3 separate regions of the Homo sapiens genome follow, and regions 2 and 3 are each linked to region 1. Evidence: fine-mapped expression QTL. A gene starts in region 1. Each other region holds a variant in brackets. All regions are shown on one strand. Distances are between the middles of the regions. Region 1 holds the start of LINC01600 (long intergenic non-protein coding RNA 1600). Region 2 has its middle 32 kb from the start of SERPINB6. Region 3 has its middle 26 kb from the start of LINC02521.

Region 1 (6,250 bases):
GCACACGATAAACAAATATTAACCAGCCACACAGCACGAGTGGAAACGCAGGGAGCAGAGCATCAGAAAGAAGGCTGGCTTGAAAGAATCCGCCCTTGAGTATACAAGACACATTGGTCCTGCCAAACACCCCCCACCCCCGCACGCGCACACACACACACACACACACACACACACACACAGAAACACACACACCCAAACGGACATATAACCGTGGCACAGGAACACACACATACCCAAGCTGCCCCTGAGGCTGTGGAGTCCTGCTGCCGCAAGCAAGTTCCTCTGGGAAGAAAGCAGCTCACGGCCACACAGGCAGGCTGGCCCTCGAGGTCACAGCGGGGAGAATCTCTGGGATACTCATTCACATACTGTCTAGGCAGGCCCGAGGCAGGGATCCCACGGCGCCTCCCCAGGGCTTTGCTTGACCTCGGGGATTCAGGGTGTCTTTCCTCTACCGGCTCCCAATCTCCCTCTAGGTGGTGAGGGCTGGCAGGGCCGTTTGTGGGGGGCAGAGCAGAAAGAAGAAGTATAGTAGAGGTTGTGACTCCCTGGGAAGGTGAGGGCTCATGTGAGCCTATACTGAGTAGATACACTGAGTAGATTCTGACTAAGGACGTCCACGAAGTTATGTTCTTTCCTGAGATGCCACAAAAAGTCATCACCAGTCTGTAAAACTCCCAGGCAGAGGGTGTGATCGTCACATTAATCAAAAAGCAGGCAGCTCTACCACCTCGTACTCATCAGGATGGCCTCTGTCAAAAATCCAGAAACAACAACGTTGGGGAGGACGTGGAGAAAGTGGGCCCTTCGGAACCGCGGGTGGGACGGAAAAGCTGTGCGGCCGCGCGGAAATCTGTACAGTGGCTCCTCCAAAAATTAAACGGAATCACCACGTTATCCAGCAATCCTCTTCCGGGTATATATCCAAAGGAATCGAAAGCAGGGTCTCAAGGAGTTACGTGTACACCCGTGTTCACAGAAGTGTTATTCACATTAGGCAGAAGGTGGAAACAACCCAAGCGTCCATGGATCCATGGACAGATCAATGGATAAGCAAGACGTGATGGGTGCGTATGATGGAACGCGACTCACCTTAACAGGGAGGGAAACCCTGACACGCTACAACGTGCATGAGCCTGGGGGACATCCTGCTAAGTGTAGTAATCCTGTGATAAAAAGGATAAACGTTGTGTGAGGTTCCTAGTGGTCAAATTCACAAAGACAGCAACTGGAACGGGGGAGAGAAGATGGGGAGTTGGTGTGTAGTGGGGCCAGAGTTTCCATCTAGGAAGAGGAGAAAGTCCCGGAGATGGATGACGGTGATGGTTGCATAGTAATGTGAATGTACTTAATGCCATTGAACTGCACACTTAAAAAAGGTTAAGAGGGTCCATTTTATGTTAGGTGTATCTTAGCAGAACTAAAGCAAAACAGAAGGCAGTGTTAAAAACAGTGGATGACGAGCTCTCAAGGTGGTGGAGGCCATCGCCCACTTCACTTGGGGGACCCCTGCTCTCAGAAGCACACACTTCACGGGGTCACCTGGTGTTCATGCCGGCGACCTTTCTCTCCCTGCCTGTGGCCTGGCCCCAGGTCAGCATTCACCAGGTGGGGAGAGTCTGTGCAGCGCGGCGTGGGCCTTGCACGCTCCTTTTTGTGTTTGTTTGGGTTCTACTTTTCCGGACTGCGACACTTATAACTTCATTAGAAAATATCACTTTCTTCAGACCCACACATTCATTTATTAGGCACTTACGCTCCATAAAATGAAATGCACAGCAAGGCCGCTTTCATGCTTCCTTGAAGTTCTATCAACTTATTTTGGGGGCAGATTTGACCTGTCAGAGCACTTCCTCCGTGGGAGCTCCATATCTAAATATGTGCATATATAGTTTTCTACTTTACTGACGGTAGCTTTCATAAAGCCGCTTGAAGTACTTACTAAAAATCCATCTTAAGACTCTTTCTGCATTTTGGGAGGCCGAGGCGGGTGGATCACCTGAGGTCAGGAGTTTGAGACCAGCCTGGCCAACATGGTGAAACCCGGTCTCTACTAAAAAATACAAAAAATAGTCGGGCATGGTGGCGGGTGCCTGTAATCCCAGCTCCGTACTCCAGAGGCTGAGGCAGAAGAATCGCTTGAACCCAGGAAGCAGAGGTTGCAGTGAGCCAAGGTCGCGCCATTGCACTCCAGCCTGGGTAACAAGAGTGAAACTCTGTCTCAAAAAAAAAAAAAAAAATCTTCCCCACACATAATGTGGCAGGACAGGAAACACTAGGATTCCTCCAGTTTATGGGGAGATTGGGAGAGCTGAGGCTTCACAATGACACAGCCGGGTATGGAAAACACCAAAAGAAATATGCCTTTTTGGATGACAATACTCCACCCCAATTTCCAAGTATGCTACAACTTTTCCTCAGCCTCGATGGGAGGTATTTACAGTGAGTGGTAGAAGCTTTACTGCAATGCCCTGGTAGACACAGGCTCCACCAGGCTTGGCTTCTACACTCTCACTGGGTCTATGGATGAGCACAGAAGCCAGGTTTCTGGCTCACAGAGAACCTAAGTGCTGAGTTTATATATAAAGTGCACAGTGTGAATAATTAAATATGAAAACGTGTACACACCAAACAGGACATTTTTACTTAATGCCAAAGAAGCACAAACGACCCTTTCTTTTGGGAGTTTCACAAGCATTTCTGCTCAACAGTAATCCCCCAGTGACAGTGATAGTAGTGGTTTCAATATTTTGTTTATAAAAAGCAACATTATAAAATGCCCTGAAAGGTCTTGGCTTCTTTTGTGAGCTCTGAACTATTCAGAAATTCAGCTTGCTATCTGGGGACAACAAATAAATCCCTACTCTAAAAAAATGGGATTCGGGTTTTTCTCCTGTGCTGCTTCCTGGCCTTAACGCTTCCTGGGGACTTACCGTCATTTGCTCAGTTACGGTTTCTATGGGATGAGTGGGGAAGCCGCGTGGTGAGGAAGCCTGGCTCGCACCCGGCCTGCGCTCTCTCGGGCCTGGCCGCATCGGCCACCAGGGGGCAGTGTTGTCATTCGCTGGCGACGCCGCCCCGCCCCGAGCGGATGCCACCCCGTTTCCAGCCTCCGGTGCTCACCGTAAGCTCTGTTATTATTATCTTTTGATTTATAAAGCGCCGTTCCTCAGCAGATTCCCCGCCCCCCAGCTGCTTCCGAGAAAGCTCGCAGAAGCGTTCGTGCGCAGGCGCGGAAGCCCCGCACAGCACGCGGTGGGCCCGGTTCGGGGGGGCGCACGGCCTGGGGCGTCGGGAAGAGGCTGCGGGCAGCGGGGCCTGCGGGCGCGGCGTGGCGGGGCGGGAAAACGGCTCTGTCCCGTGGGGCGCAGGCAGGAACGTGTTCCCATAAAAGACACAGGGAAGACCAACCCTGGGCGTTAGCCATCCAAACCTTCCCTCCCGTGCGAAACCCGCTGCCCTGCGGCCAGGACTGTGAGGGAAGCGATGGGAGGAACCCGGGAGCCCGCGAAGGCCGGGCCCCAGAGTCCGGGCGCCCCTGAGCGGGGCGGAGGGGACAAATAGAACCTTTTTAAGGACAGCTGAAAGAGATTATAAGCGCGGTGTGCTGGGACTTTGGAAAGGGCGCGAGTCATTAGTGGGGGCGAATCAGAGGGGAGTATGTTGACGGGATAATAACAAAAATAAAGAGGCTTGATAAGAAAGACACGGCTTTTGGAGTCAAAGGGAAAATCCGGGACAATGAGGGTTGGCAGGTTCCTGGGACACAAACCAGGAAAAACAGGGCCACACCGGAGCGGCCTGCCTGGCTCCAGCACAGCCGGTGCAGAAGCTAATTTTGTTCCGAGTCCTCCTAGCTCAACAAACATGCCGCCATAGCACCTATTTTCTTTTAGGTAATGCTCACAACAACCTAGCAAAGTGGGGATCATCTTCACCACTGTACAGATGAAGAAATTGAAGGTCAGACATTCAAGGTTATGTGGCCACATGAGAGAAATACCAGAGCTGGGATGAAGACTCAACGGCTCTCAGACACCAGGTTGCTTCTTGAGAGAAGCCGGATGGATGTGCATGCAGGGAGGTGAGCCTCAAAGCAGGTCCAGCTTTCTCCCGTGAGTGTTCCAGTGGCTTAGGGTTAGGGTTAGGGTCCAGAGGAGGAGAGGCGTCCAGAGCTGGGGCCGTCTGCGTTTTGCCTTGCTGTCCCAGAGTGGCAGCGAGGAGTGGCCTGGCCTAGAGGGTCTTTGTCTTATCTTGTGACTTGCTGTTTCTCCTCTGTCTGCAGGAGCTGGGGGAGGTTGGAGAAGCCGCAGCCCAGAAGGGGAGGGAGGACACCATGTCAGAGCTTGCTGGAGCAAGCTTTGGAGGAAGGCCACAGGGGACATTGTCACCAAGGGCCACGGCAGCGTGCACCCTGGGTTAGAGAAAGGGGCAAATTATGGATATGAAAAATGCTTCCCTCAATGAAAAGGACCCTGCTGAGACAGGATGGCTGTGGGCCAAATACCCCTACAGTGCCTGATTCTTTTATCTTATTATTTATTTAAACAAGACCAGCATTTTGCTTTAGATAGAAAATCTCTCTCTGCTACAAAATTGCAAGCCCTGGGAAAAGTCTCCAAGAATGGCTGATGCCACAGTCAAACAATAACATACATGTCGGGGTGAAACAGTGCACAGAGGATGAAAAAAGGGAAAAGCTCGAGGCCCCGGGAGGAAGGAGCTGGGAGGGTGGAGGGCGTGGAGGTGTGAGGGCCCAGAGGGATTGCCCAGGAAGGTATGGAGGACCGAAAATGGATCACCAGCCCTCATGGACAACTTAAACTAAAGGTGGAAAAGACAGAAAAGCTGGCAGGGGGAATTGTCTCCAGCCAACCTGTCAACTTTTGGAAAAAGATGGATCACAAAGAATGGGAAGTGGAAGAGAAGGAGAGGAGAAACCAAGAATAAAGAGCAGACGCTGTGGGCAGAGCTGTGGGGCGCCCATGCTGGCAGAGCTGGGTTCTAGGGCCCTGGTTTCGGCTGTGTAACCGCTTGCCCAGCCCTCATCTCATCCCTCAACAATGAGGGCCTGGCAAGGGAGGGTATGCTGGCCTATTTTTGTCTCATGTATTTGTGGACTCTGTCCAGAAGCTCTGAGATGCCAAGTTAAAATGGAGAAGGTTTGAGTCACCGCCACCTGGCCAGAGCCTCAGTGAGTGGGACGCCAGGGCTGGGGTCGGGGGCTGCAGAGTTGCTGTTGATTCACGCGGCTTCTCTGGGGTCTGGATCTCAGTTTGGCTGTGAGGCTAAGCCCTGAATGGGTGCATAGCAACGTTATTCTGGAGTGCTAACAGCCTACCCTTGCCACCCACGTCTTAGAGACATTAGAAAGTTGGGTACAACATTCCCCACCTCCCTCTGATTTTTCTGGAGTAGACTGTGATGAGGAGATGGTCAGTCTCCAATAAAGTCAGCACCTTCCATGAAAAATGACTTTCCCTGAAAGTTGTTTTGGAGTGTTAAAGAAAAATATCTTCAAAATTCTTTACCACTTTTTGAGCCCGATTCCAGATGTTTGGCATATCCTAAATTATCCACTTTAAGCTTTGATAATCCTAGGAGGTAGATACTGTTATTCCCGTTCCGCAGATGCAGAAACTGAGGCCCTCATTAATGCTGGGACCACTCATGGTCACAGCTGGTGGTGGTGGAATTGGGATTTGAAGTCAGATCTCTGACTCAGAACTTGGGTACTTCTTTCATGTTTCCTTTTCCTCCTTTATTCAAAGTAGCTTAATTGCTTTTGTAAAATAAACGTGAACATCACCCCAACTGCCGCCGTCCAGGGATAACCAGGAACAGTTTAATGAATGTCCTTCAAGACCTCTCTCTCTTGCATTAACTTGAATTCAAGCTTGTCAATACCCAGATTATTCCTTCTTGAAAGTCGGTCCTATGCATTTAATTGAATTGAAGTTGGTGGCTTTTCCTGCTCTTGACATTTGCCTGAGTTGGCCTCGGGATTCTGTAAAGGAAGCGCCTTCTGGGCTGCAGTTTTCTCTTTCCCTACTCCCCGTGGTGTCTGCTCCTCACCTCAGTCAGATAAGACCTTGGTCCTCCTTTCCATGCCCCCAGAAAGGACCCAACTAGCTCTTCCAAAGATGTGCTTGGAATTCCCGGACAGCTAAGGGATCAGCTGCCAGGACGGGGCTGTTGCACGGTTGGCGTGTGGGGGCCAGTGTTCCGTGGAAGGTGCCTAGAGATG
Region 2 (6,226 bases), 310 kb before region 1:
GTCCCCCAGGCTGCAGTGCAGCGTGATCTTGGCTCACTGCAACTTCCACCTCCCTGGTTCAAGAGATTCTCCTGCCTCAGCCTCCTGAGTAGTTAGGATTACAGGGGTGCACCACCACGCCCGGCTAATTTTTGTATTTTTAGTAGAGATGGGGTTTTACCATGTTGACCAGGCTGGTCTCAAACTCCTGACCTCAAGTGATCTGCCGGCCTCAGCCTCCCAAAGTGCTAGGATTACAGGCGTGAGCCACCGCGCCTGGCCTATATTTACGTAACTTTTATTACAGTATGTTATTGTAAACCAAAAATAAAATACTTTTTTTTTTTTTTTTTGAGATGGAGCTTAACTCTTATTGCCCAGGCTGCAGTGCAACGGCGCGATCTCGGCTCACCGCAATCTCCGCCTCCTGGGTTCAAGCGATTCTCCTGCCTCAGCCTTCCGAGTAGCTGGGATTACAGGCATGCGCCACCACGCCCAGATAATTTTGTATTTTTAGTAGAGACAGGGTTTCTCTGTGTTGGTCAGGCTGGTCTCGAACTCCCGACCTCAGGTGATCCGCCCGCCTCAGCGTCCCAAAGCGCTGGGATTATAGGCATGAACCACCAAGCCTGGCCCAAAAATAAAATTCTAAGCCCCCCAACCAAATGGACCCCTCCTCTCAGCCAAAGGCATTCGAAAGTAAACCTGAAACACTAGTTCAGGCCACGATGTGAAATAGGGAGGAGGGGCTCAGACATGCCTCATTCTACCTTCCTCCCGTTGGAATTCAGGCACAGCTGACCAGCATTACATTAAAACAGACCTTAACGCTGACAAAACAGACTCTATCTAGCAATTAGCTACCAACATGACAGACAACGGGCCCTGAAAGAAATTGAAGTATTTTACCCCAAAACATATTTCTTTGACATATTTTGAAATGGCCCTGCAAAGCTGCCTCTTGTGGGGAAAATCTACATTTTTGTAGATAATCTCCTTCCCTTTCCGGGTCTTTCTCCTGATCCAGGAGAGTCTGAAAAGAGACATTTACAATAGATGCTCTCTGAAGCCTGCTCGCTTCATCTGCAGAATAAGACCCTTGGTCTCCACAACACCTTATCTTAACCCACACACTCCCTTCTATTGATTTCAGGTCTTTAGATGAACTTTCAACCAGAAAATCTTGGAATCCACCTGCGACCCAGAAGCTCCCCCCTGACCACCACCACCTTGGGCACGTGTTCTCAGGATCTCCAGGGGCTGTGTCAGAGGCCACGGTCACTCACATTTGGCTCAGAACAAATCTCTTCAAATACTTTACAGAGTTTGACAGTATTTCAATTTTATTGCATATATTATATTGCATATGAGTTTAACTCATATTTTGAGTTTTTAATCTCTTACTGTACCTAATTTATAAACTTTATTATATGTATAGAAAAAAACAGTATATATAGGATTCAGTACTATCCATAGTTTCAGGCATCCACTGGAGATCTCTGAACATATCCCTTGCAGGTAAGGGGGGAAGCTGCTGTGTACTTCTATATGTGTCGCATGTGAAGCGTGGCCAAAATGGGAAATCTGAAAATGAAGGGGGAAAATGAACATAATTAGGGCTTTGTTTACTTTCAGAAATGGGGTGTTATGTTGCCCAGGCTGGCCTCAAATTCCTGGACTCCAGCAATCTACCCCACCTCAGCCTCCCACGCAGCTGGGATTACTGGCATGTACCCCCACACCCAACATGGGTGGCTTATATCTTTTTAAGTTTACTTATTGTAAGTCATGTTGGCTACAATTAAAAATATATATTATATACTTGAAAATGAGTAAGATTCAAAATGTTCTTGTAAACTGTGTGTCTTCCCCTATCTGAAGGAATTTGGGAGGAGCAACCTTGCAAGAACCTTGGTCTTTTTACACCCAGAAATTGGTTTTTGGTTTCACTGACTTCAAGAATAAAACCGCAAACCCTCAGTGAATACTATAGCTCTTAAGGCGGCGCGCCTGGAGTTGTTCGTTCACTCTCACTGGGCTCGTCGTCTCACCCACTATAGAAATGAAATTGCAACTTTCGCAGTGAGTGTTCCGTTCCTCCTAATGGGCTCGTCGTCTCACCCACTTCAGAAATGAAGTTGCAACTTTCACAGAGTCGTCTCACCTACTTCAGAAATGAAGTTGCAACTTTCACAGATGAGTGTTTCGTTCCTCCTGCCGGGCTCGTCATCTCACCCACTTCAGAAATAAAGTGACAATTTTCGCAGTGAGCGCTACAGCTCATAAAGGCAACGCAGACGCCAAATGCAAACGAACAAACCTTATCACAGCACAGAAAACCCCAACGGGTTACCACTACAAGCTCCGGCAGCCTGCTTTTATTCTTTTATCTGGCCCCACCCACATCCTGCTGATTGGTAGAACCAAGTGGTCTGTTTTGACAGGGCGCTGATTGGTGCGTTTACAATCCCTGAGCTAGACATAAAGGTTCTCCAAGGCCCCACCAGAGTAGCTAGATATAGAGTGTCAATTGGTGCATTCACTAAACCTTGAGCTAGATGCAGGATGCTGATTGGTGTGTTTACAAACCTTGAGCTAGATACAGAGTGCCGATTGGTGTATTTACAATCGCTGGGCCAGACACAAATGTTCTCCATGGTCCCCACCAGACTCAGGAGCCCAGCTGGCTTCACCCAGTGGATCCTGTACTGGGGCTGCAGGTGGAGCTGCCTGCCACTCCCACGCCATGCGCCCACACTCTTCAGCCCTTGGGTGGTCGATGGGACTGGGAGCCATGGAGTAGGGGGTGGTGTTCATCAGGGAGGCTCGGGCATGGCGGGCTGCAGGTCCCAAGTCCTGCCCCGCGGGAAGGCAGCTAAGGCCCAGTGAGAAATAGGGCGCAGCGCTGGTGGGCTGGCACTATGGGGGAACCCAGTACACCCTCTGCAGCCACTGGCCCGGGTGCTAAACCCCTCATTGCCCGAGGCCGGCATGGCCGGCCGGCTGCTCCGAGTGCGGGGCCCGCCAAGCCCACGCCCACCCGGAACTCCAGCTGGCCCGCAAGCGCCGCGCACAGCCCCAGTTCCCGCTGGCGCCTCTCTCTGCACACCTCCCTGCAAGCTGAGGAAGCCGGCTCCGGCCTTGCGTGGCCAGCCCAGAAACGGACTCCAACAGTGCAGCGGC[G/A]GGCTGAAGGGCTCCTCAAGTGCCGCCAAAGTGGGAGCCCAGGCAGAGGAGGCACCCAGAGCGACCGAGGGCTGTGAGGACTGCCAGCATGCTGTCACTTCTCACTTTGTACTTTTAAAAGGAAAGAATTCAAATGAGAGACAGGCAAGGGAACATTTATTTTAAGCAATGTGAAAGTTCATTGGAGAAAGTAGGCTTGGAAGAGGGTCAAGCAGGAGACTTCAAAAATCAAGTGCTGCTTCCGCTTTGATTTTTTTTTTTTTTTGGACGGAGTCTCGCTCTATTGCCCAGGCTGGAGTGCAGTGGTACAATCTCAGCTGACTGCAACCTTTGTCTCCAGGGTTCAAGCGATTCTCCTGCCTCAGCCTCCCGAGTAGCTGGGACTACAGGTGCTTGCCACCACGCCTGGCTGATTTTTTGTATTTTTAGTAGAGACAGGGTTTCACCATGTAAACCAGGATGGTCTTGATCTCCTGACTTCATGATCCACCTGCCTCAGCCTCCCAAAGTGCTGGAACTACAGGCGTGAGCCACCACCCCAGGCCTGCTTACAGTTTTTATACCCCTTACTCTTTTCCAGGCTGTCTCCACTCTTTGTTCTTCACCTCCCGGGCTGGCCCTCAAGTATTGCATGCCCAGTAGCCCTCCCAGTAGGCGCTGGATGGTTACTGAAGTTGTGCGCATGCCCATTAGATGCAATTCTCCCTTACTGGTCGAGCGCCCCTAGAGGAAAGTCATACACCGGGTAAATTTCACACCTTTCTATTACTGCACATGCTCAAAACCTTGTCTGGGACTGCCTTGCTAACTCCAGGTGTCTTCTGTCTGTTGCAAGACTCCTGTTATTCCCAGCGCCAGCCATGGCCACTTATTACCCTAGAGGGATAGTTTTATGCCCTTCAATCCCGGTCCCAATGAGAACCAGACAGCTCTGGGGTCCCTTCCTTGTCTTGCTCATTATTTCAGAGGGACAGATTTATAATTGTGACTGTGGCTTGACAAATGTCCAACATTCTTGGGGGCCCGTGCATGCCCTGCTCACGTCTAACCGCCTACTCTGACATTCTCATCACAAAAAAAATAGATGAGGTAATGCGTATGGGAATTAGCTTGTTTTAGCCATTCCACTGATATGGAAGGGTGTGCTCTCTTTAAATAACATGGCGGGGGGGGGAAGGGCGTGGTCCCTGGCTAGGGCTCCAACCCTGGGCCTGTGCCCACGGACCTAGTTGAGGACAGGCATTTTTGTTTTCCTGCCCCAATGTTGCACTTCTCAAGACCACCCTGGCCTGCCACGCCCCTACCCTGTGCCTGTAAAACCCTGAGACGCTAGCAGGCAGACACACAGGTGGCTGCATATCGAGAGGAGTACATCAGTGGAGGAACACACGAGCGGCTGGAAGTTGAGAGGAATGGGATGCACCAGCAGGCACCGGCATGCAGGCAGGCCATCCACCGGCAGAACAACGCAGTTTGACGGGGGCAGTTGAAGGAGAGCCCAGGTTGCCAGACTTACCTTGCACTCATTCTCCAAGCCCACATGTGATCCGATTCTTCTGGTACACCAAGGCAGGAACCCCAGGATACAGAAAGCCCTCTGTCCTTGCGATAAGGTAGGGGTCTGATTGAACTGGTTAACACAAGCCACCTATGGATAGCTAAACTAAAAAAGCACTCTAACACATGCCCAGTGGAGCTTCAGGAGTTGTAAACATTCAGCCCTAGACACTGCAAAAGGGTTGGAGCCCCACAGCCTACCTGTCTGTATTCTCTCCTAAAAGTTGGAGCAGCAGGGCACTAAAGTGAGCCATCAGCCCCATCACACATCCCGAGAGGAACAAGGGAACTTGCCCAGTTTCACTACCATGTAAGCATGTATCAAAACATAACATTGCAAAAGTCTACACAACTATTACTTGTCCATTTTTTAAAAATTCACTGCAAGTGATTTTTATTAGAGGACCTAAGACTGTCAAATCGTTCTTTAAAAATGTTTGGAAAAGATCAAATTGAATTTTTAAAATTCACAATTTAAACTTTAAATATACGTTATTCTCAAAGTACAGTTATTTGCTATGCAGTGAATTGTGCCCAGCCCCCTCCACAAATTCATACGTTGAAACCTTAACACGTAATTCATGATTTTAAACGAGAAATTTTTACAGTTAAGGTTGCTAAAAACAACCATCACCAAAAACACTGTGCTGGTGGGTTCATTGGTCTTACTGACTTCGGGAATGAAGCCACAGACCCGTGTGGTGTTACAAGTTCTTTAAAGCGGTATGTCCTCCCTTTACTTCTTTCATGGTGGGCTTAGCGATCTCATCGGCTCAAGAGTAAAGCTCTAAAACATTCAGTGAGTGTCATAAACTACATAACGCCATACGCTCCTGATAGTTGTTTAACTCTACAAATGGGTTGGTTCTATTTTCATACCTTCAAAAACAAAACCACAGAGCTTTACAAAGAATGTTACAGCTCATACAGGAAACAAAACCGAAAAACAGCACATTTACTGAAAAAAAGAGAAAAAAAAAAAAAAAAGCAAGAAGAATAACCATTTTCACTACATTGAAGCAGATCTCAGCAAACATACCACGGCTAACTCCGACAGCCTGCTTTTATTCCCTTATCTGGCCCCACCCACATCTTGCTGATTGGTCCATTTTACAGAAAGCTGACTGGTCTGTTTTACAGAGAGCTGATTGGTCCGTTTTGCCAGGGTGCTGATTGGTGCGTTTACAATCCCTGAGCTAGACACAAAAGTTTTCCAAGTACCCACTAGATTAGCTAGACACAGAGCACTGATTGGTGCATTTACAAATCTTGAGCTAGACACAGGGTACTGATCGGTGCATTTCCAAACCTTGAGCTAGATACAGAGTGCCGATTGGTGTATTCACAATCCCTTAGCTAGACATGAAGGTTCTCCAAGTCCCCACCAGATCAGCTAGACACAGAGTGCTGATTGGTGCATTTACAAACCTCGAGTTAGATTAAGAGTGCTGATTGGTGTATTCACAATCCCTTAGCTAGACATAAAGATTCTCCAAGTCCCCCCAGA
Region 3 (6,250 bases), 26 kb after region 1:
ACTGTAAATGTACCTATAACACTTGGAGAAGGGGAGAGAGCTGATCTCAAACTAATTGATGTTAGTTTAGGGGGATTTGGTTTCTTGAGTTGATGCCTATTTCCTACCAATACGTTGGACACAGAATGACAACTGGGTAGAAATCCAGTTTCCTAGTCCCCCACACCACTCAGCTGGTCCACACGAAGCCAGCTGGACTGAGGGTGGAGATTTCTTGGTACCATTTACCAGACTCTGAGACACTCCTCAGAAGGAAGTTAAGATATGAAAACATTGACAGTGATGAATCACTTGCTGGCCAGGCTGCAGCAGCAATGCTGGGATTCAGAGCAATCACTGCCACCTGGAGCCTCATGAGAGGACATTGCTTGTGTTGCTCCAGAGCCCTATTATGGTCATTTACTAACATTTGCAAAGCTGTAAGTGAAAAAGTTATCAAGGGAATGAGAAGACATGCCACAGACTGTGAGAACATACTTGCAAAAGACACATCTGAGAAAGGACTGGTATCCAAAATAGACAAAGACTCTTAAAACTCAACAATAAGAAAACAACTCAATTAGAAAATGAGCCAAGAGACCTAGCAGATCCCTCACCAAAGAAGGTATACAGATGGCAAATAACTGTATGGAAAGATGCCCCACATCACAGTCATCAGGGAAATGCAAATTAAAACTATGAAATACCAGCACACAGCCGTTAGAATGGCCAACATCAAATGGTGAGAATGTGGAGCAACAGGAACCCTCATTCATTGCTGGTGGGAACGCAAAACAGTACGACCACATTAGGAGACAGTTTGGCAGTTTCTTACAAAACTAACATACCCTTATTATATAATCCAGTAATCATGCTACTTGGTATTTACCCAAAGGAGTTAAAAACTTATGTCCACACAAAAACCTGCACACAGATATTTATGGCAGCTTTATTCATAATTGCTCAAACTTGGAATCAACCAAGATGTTCTTTAGTGGGTGAATGGATAAATAAACTGTGGTACATCCAGACAATGGAATATTATTCACACTAAAGAGAAATGAGCTAATAAGCCATGAAAAGACATAGAGGAGCCTTAAGTACATGCTGCTAGTTAAAAGAAGCCAATCTGAGAAGGCTCCATACTGTGACTCTAACTATGTGTCATTCTGGAAAAGGCAAAACTATGAAGACAGTAAAAATATCAGTGGTTGCCAGGAGTTAGGGGGAGGGAGGGATGAATAGGTGGAGCACAGAGGATTTTTAGAGCAGTGCGACTACTCTGTATGATACCGTAATAGTGGATGATATCATTATACATTGGTCCAAATACCAAGAGTGAACCTAATGTGAACGATGGACTCTGGGTGGTGATGATGTGTGAATATGGGTGGGTTCATTGACTGTGACATGTATGCCACTCTGGTGAGGGTGTTGATCACTGGGAGGCTGTGCAGAGGGTATATTGGAAATCTCGTCACCTTCCTCTCTATTTTGCCATGGCCCTAAAACTGCTTTAAAAAATTAAAGTCTTAAAGAAGACTATGTAACTTTGTAATTCTACGTCCAGTATCTGTTTAGTAGAAACAGTGGGAAAGGAAGCACATGTGTGGATAATCCTGGAGAAAATGGAAAGAACCCAAGAAACCTGGACTTGGCCAAAGAAAGATGGAGCCCAAGAGTTTGAGCCCAAAGAAAATAACAAAACAATCAAGGACGAAATTTACCTTCAAAGCTCAGACTGAAAACGAAAACGCCCAACGTTCAACCTTGTTTTTTGTTTTCTTTTCTCAAGGCAGATCCCAGTCAGTGTATTTGCTTCTACAAAGCAACATATGAGGTTTGACAAGCAAGAACCCATTGTTAGGAGTGACGGCTCATGGAGAACACTGAAACTACACTGCTGTTATTCTGACATTTTTAATGCCACTGCTTTTCTTTCAATCCTCAGACATGTATTCATCATATTAAGAGTTCAACATATCAGATCTCCCGGCAGCAATGGTAAGAGTGTGGGCAGTAAAATTTGGCAAACTAAAGGGAAAAAATGTATCTTTCACCATTCAAAGAAACACCACAGCAGCTCGACATTAGATTTATGGAGTTACCCTACCTGCTTTTCCCCAAAACTTAATGAAACTTTTCATAGGTCTTTCCAACACACAAGAAGCTGTTAAGAATTCATGGTCTATTTCGCCTCTCAGAGAGCCTAACAATACATATTCCCTTTTACATTGAATGTTGAGTGTTTTACTTTTCTCCACATTCATCCTCTCTCCAAAACTAAACCCTCTGCCCCTCCTGTGGCTGGAAGTGTCTGCTCTATGGGTGACCTCTCAGCTACAGCCTCAGTCTCCTATGGCCTCCTCCTCTTCCTGCGTTTTATGGATAGTCTGTCTGTTCTATTTTTTTAAATGCTGCATAGGAAAATCTACATCTGACCCCATCCTTCCAATGATTGCCTAGTTCCTTTTAACAAAACTTTTATAAGAGCGTCTATTCCATGCCATCTCAAGAAATCTGTCTTTGATTCACCTCATCCTTCAGCACACCAGACAGGTGTTGGTGTTTTGGCTTATATTTATTCTACGCCTATTTTCTCTCTAGTCTTGTGTGAGTCTGGGTGTCCCTCTAGCCTGCCCAGATGACTACTATCATTCCAAAGGAATAATATTGCCCCTGCTGTTGCCCCAGATTTTCTAGTGCCATGCTACATATACAGTAAATCAGTCAGACATTAGGTTGATAATTCCCATGGGCAGGCAGGCAGGCAGTCTCTTCCATTCACTGCTGTACCCCTAGCACAGTAAAGGGCACATGGTACACCCTTGACAAACCAATAAACGACTAGAGACATGGGTACTCCATGAGCACATACAAAGAGACTACTAGGTCACAGAGCTGTGTGATGAGCTCTGGGTTCTAAGCCAATTTTTACTGGATGCCAAAACAATCATTCCGTTTAATCAAAAACTCAGCTAAGTAAATAAAGTAGCTTTGGATGATAACTCAAAGTATAAAATAAATAACCACGAACTCATACGGATATCAACAAATGATTGAAAAAATAAATGAATTGAAGAAAAGAGACAAATGTTCTGTGCAGAAAATTTCAAATAATTTCTGTAGATACTCTGCCCTCAAGGATGGGGAGTATTAACTCCCCACCCCATAAATGTGGGCTGCAGATAATGACTTCCTTCCAAAGAGCACAGTATGGAAAGTGGGGACATAGAGGAACTTTTCCTCTAGGTGAATGTATTTGTC[G/A]AATAAATTTTTGGAAAAAGAAGTTTGGGTCAAAGGGCATTTGCATTTATAATTTTAGTAGGTATTGCCAAATTCCCATAGAAATTGAAACCAATATATGTTCCCATCAGCTTTTTTTTTTTTTTTTTTTTTTTGAGATGGAGTTTCATTCTGTTGCCAGGCTGGAGTGCAGTGGCATGATCTCGGCTCACTGCAACCTCCACCTCCCGGGTTCAAGCGATTCTCCTGTCTCAGCTTCCCAAGTAGCTGGGACTACAGGTGTGCACCACCACGCTCAGCTAATTTTTGTATTTTTAGTAGAGGTGGGATTTCACCATGTTAGATAGGATAGTCTCGATCTCTTGACCTCATCATGAGCCCGCCTTGGCCTCCCAAAGTGCTGGGCCCTTCAGCTTTTAATAAATGTCTTTCCTCTACTCCATTGCCACCAGCATATTAACCTGTTAGGTTTGTTTTTTTTTTTTAAACAACCTGGGAGTTGGAAAATGAAATCTCAGTATAGTTTAATTTGCATTTTAATTATCATGAGTGAGGCTGAGTATCTTCTCACCTATCTAAACTTCTGTGATCTTGTCTGGAAAGTGTCATTTTCCCAATAGTTGGTCTTTTTTCAATTGACTGTGGGAGCTATTTAGGTATCAGGTATTCTTTGACGTTGTATGAATTAACAAGTACTTTCCCCATTTGTTGCCTTACAAAGGCCACTATAACATGGAATTTAGATGTATTGCCAACTGACTGTGTTGGATCCATTTAAACACTTTGTTTTTATAATTAAAAGCCGTTGGTAACACATACTGTTTCATCTCCTGAAATGACTTGAAGAACCATATATTGAGATATAAATATAAATGTTATTTTGATTCTTTTGGTAGCAAATAAGTAGGATTCACCCCCCCACCCTGCTCTATTTTGTAGAAGTTTTATTAAATGCCTATAATCCTATTCATTAATTATAAAAATAGAATAACAGATAAATTTAAATATTTGCTCTACATAAACCTATTTTGAATACTCTGGCAAGATCTAAAGCTTGTTTACTAAAAAGCCTTGGTAAAACCAACAAATTATACATACCTCATGAATATAGTTTTCAAGAGTTTTTTGCTCCACAAAAAAAGATCTGCTATTAGGATTTAATAAAATTTTACTGAAAAATATATACTGCCCTTTCTGGGATTAAGCAAGCACCTGGCTGCTGGCTGACACTTCAGGGGACATCAGCATCAGCTCTGTTCTCCGATGTTGTGTGTGGCTGGGCCTCCACCCCAGAGCTTTGCAGATACACAGTTCAACAGCGATGTTCCCAGTAGCTCGACACCAGAAAGGGACAGTGATGGGGCCTGTTCCGTCACATCACGGCATCTCACCTGCCCTCCTGCTCTCTACCTGCATCGAGGAGTCTCAGAGAATCCCACATGACATGAACCTTGAAGCCTCAGGGGTAGGCCCTCCAGCCCCTGAGCAGAGGCCGCAGAGTTAACGTTTTGAAAGTGGTTTTCTGTTGCTAAAAAATGTGTGGTTTATCACAGCCCTAAAAAATGTCCAATGATTGGGATTATCCCCCTTCTCCTTTCCTGTGTGCCTTCAATTAGCTGAATGAAAGCAAACCCGTGGCTTTAGAACCTGAAATAGCTGGAGAAAAGTGATGCAGATTTCAGGCGAGATGAAAGAGTGGAACCCAGAAGCCTAATTAAAAGCAACTGAGAAACCAGTATTTGATACGGCGTTCACTCACCTGAAAAAATAAACCAAGAGCTCCAGCAAGCTTTGCTGGAGGGTTGTCGGAGAGGGGCTGAGACGTTGCACTCAGGTCACAGGAAGGCCCGACTCGCAGGACACAGAGCCTCACTATTTCTTTCCTCTTGGAGTCAGGGGAAGGTCAGCCAGCCCGCCGAGGCCACCAGCCCGGCCTGCTTGACAATAGCCAGTTAGCCAGCAAAACTTTCCTCCAAGGTGGCAAGGGTGACAGCTATCCATCCCCAAACGCATTGCTTTTTTAAAAATCTTGAAATGTGCATGATTTGTTCAACATCACTTTCCCCCTGATTTTCCCTGCTTCTTTTTCTTCTCACACTTCTCTTCCTCCTGCTTTTACTACTCCCCATGTCATCTTTCTTAAATGCAGGGCATTTCTGTACATTCAGCTTATGGTTTGTTTTTGATGGCAGAAACTATCAAGGACTCACTGAAAGAATTAGTCCTCCTTTACCAAGAGGAAAATTCTCTTGGTTTTGAGATAAATCAAGGCCCAAGGTCAGTCAAGGGAGGAAATAAATAAATGAGCCTCTCTTTCATACATTGCATATTTTTAAACCTACAAATCAGCCCCCCGAATGGAATGCTGGCATATAAAAGCAGCATTTGGGATCCCGCTAAATGCAACTGCCATCACGTCCAAGATTTTAGTTGGAGGCAAGAAAAAGGACTTAATTTTAATTGCTGGGGGAGACGTCCTTCATTCTTTTCCTTTCCAAGTTTGATATTCATGACCTTGGGTAGGATGGGAGGTGGGGAATGTGGAAAGATGGATATGGGGTCGCGGTGGTTTTATTACTGTAAGTAACTGAAACAACAGCCCCGTTTTTGGAACAGTCTGTTCAGGAAGCAGAGACTAGATGCTTCCCCCTCAGTGGGGTCACAGTTGGCTTTTCTTGACTTCACGCGTTGTCGGATGGGATCCACAGTGAACTGAGGTTATCAACACCGAATAGCAGCTACCATTTCACATTGCAGGATGCACTTCAGAAACCACACACCAGCGCGAGGATCTCACATGGACATTACTGTTGTTATCTCTTAAATGCTTTGGGAACACCAAGGACCTCTCACTTTGTTGGGTATTGTAGAGAGGTTTTATAGGAAGTGATGAAAATATGGCCTTTGTCTGTAAGGAGTCAACCATCTTAAAGTAACATGTTTATATAAACACAAACATTCACCGTTGTTCCCAGAGTTCACTTAGGTTGGTCATCTTCCTTCCTTCCCTTCCTTCCTTCCCTTC

Evidence for each region. PIP is the estimated chance that this variant, and not a neighbour inherited with it, causes the effect. A credible set is the group of variants that fine-mapping cannot tell apart.
Region 2: its variant is the best candidate, but not a certain one, in a credible set for the expression of LINC01600 in hypothalamus (GTEx, PIP 0.77).
Region 3: its variant is the best candidate, but not a certain one, in a credible set for the expression of LINC01600 in hypothalamus (GTEx, PIP 0.84).

The regions. Positions count from the first base shown.
Region 1 is chr6:2,631,442-2,637,691 of GRCh38, reverse strand. LINC01600 (long intergenic non-protein coding RNA 1600) reads left to right here and starts at 3,089. Exons shown (of 3, transcript NR_131168.1): 1 at 3,089-3,127; 2 at 3,900-4,087. LINC02521 (long intergenic non-protein coding RNA 2521) reads right to left here and starts at 3,192. Exons shown (of 3, transcript NR_149119.1): 1 at 2,937-3,192; 2 at 237-755.
Region 2 is chr6:2,936,485-2,942,710 of GRCh38, reverse strand. No RefSeq gene overlaps it. Among named protein-coding and RNA genes, the nearest start is that of SERPINB6, 32 kb to the left of the region's middle. The variant G/A (reference allele first, on the strand shown) is at 3,163.
Region 3 is chr6:2,605,335-2,611,584 of GRCh38, reverse strand. No RefSeq gene overlaps it. Among named protein-coding and RNA genes, the nearest start is that of LINC02521, 26 kb to the left of the region's middle. The variant G/A (reference allele first, on the strand shown) is at 3,247.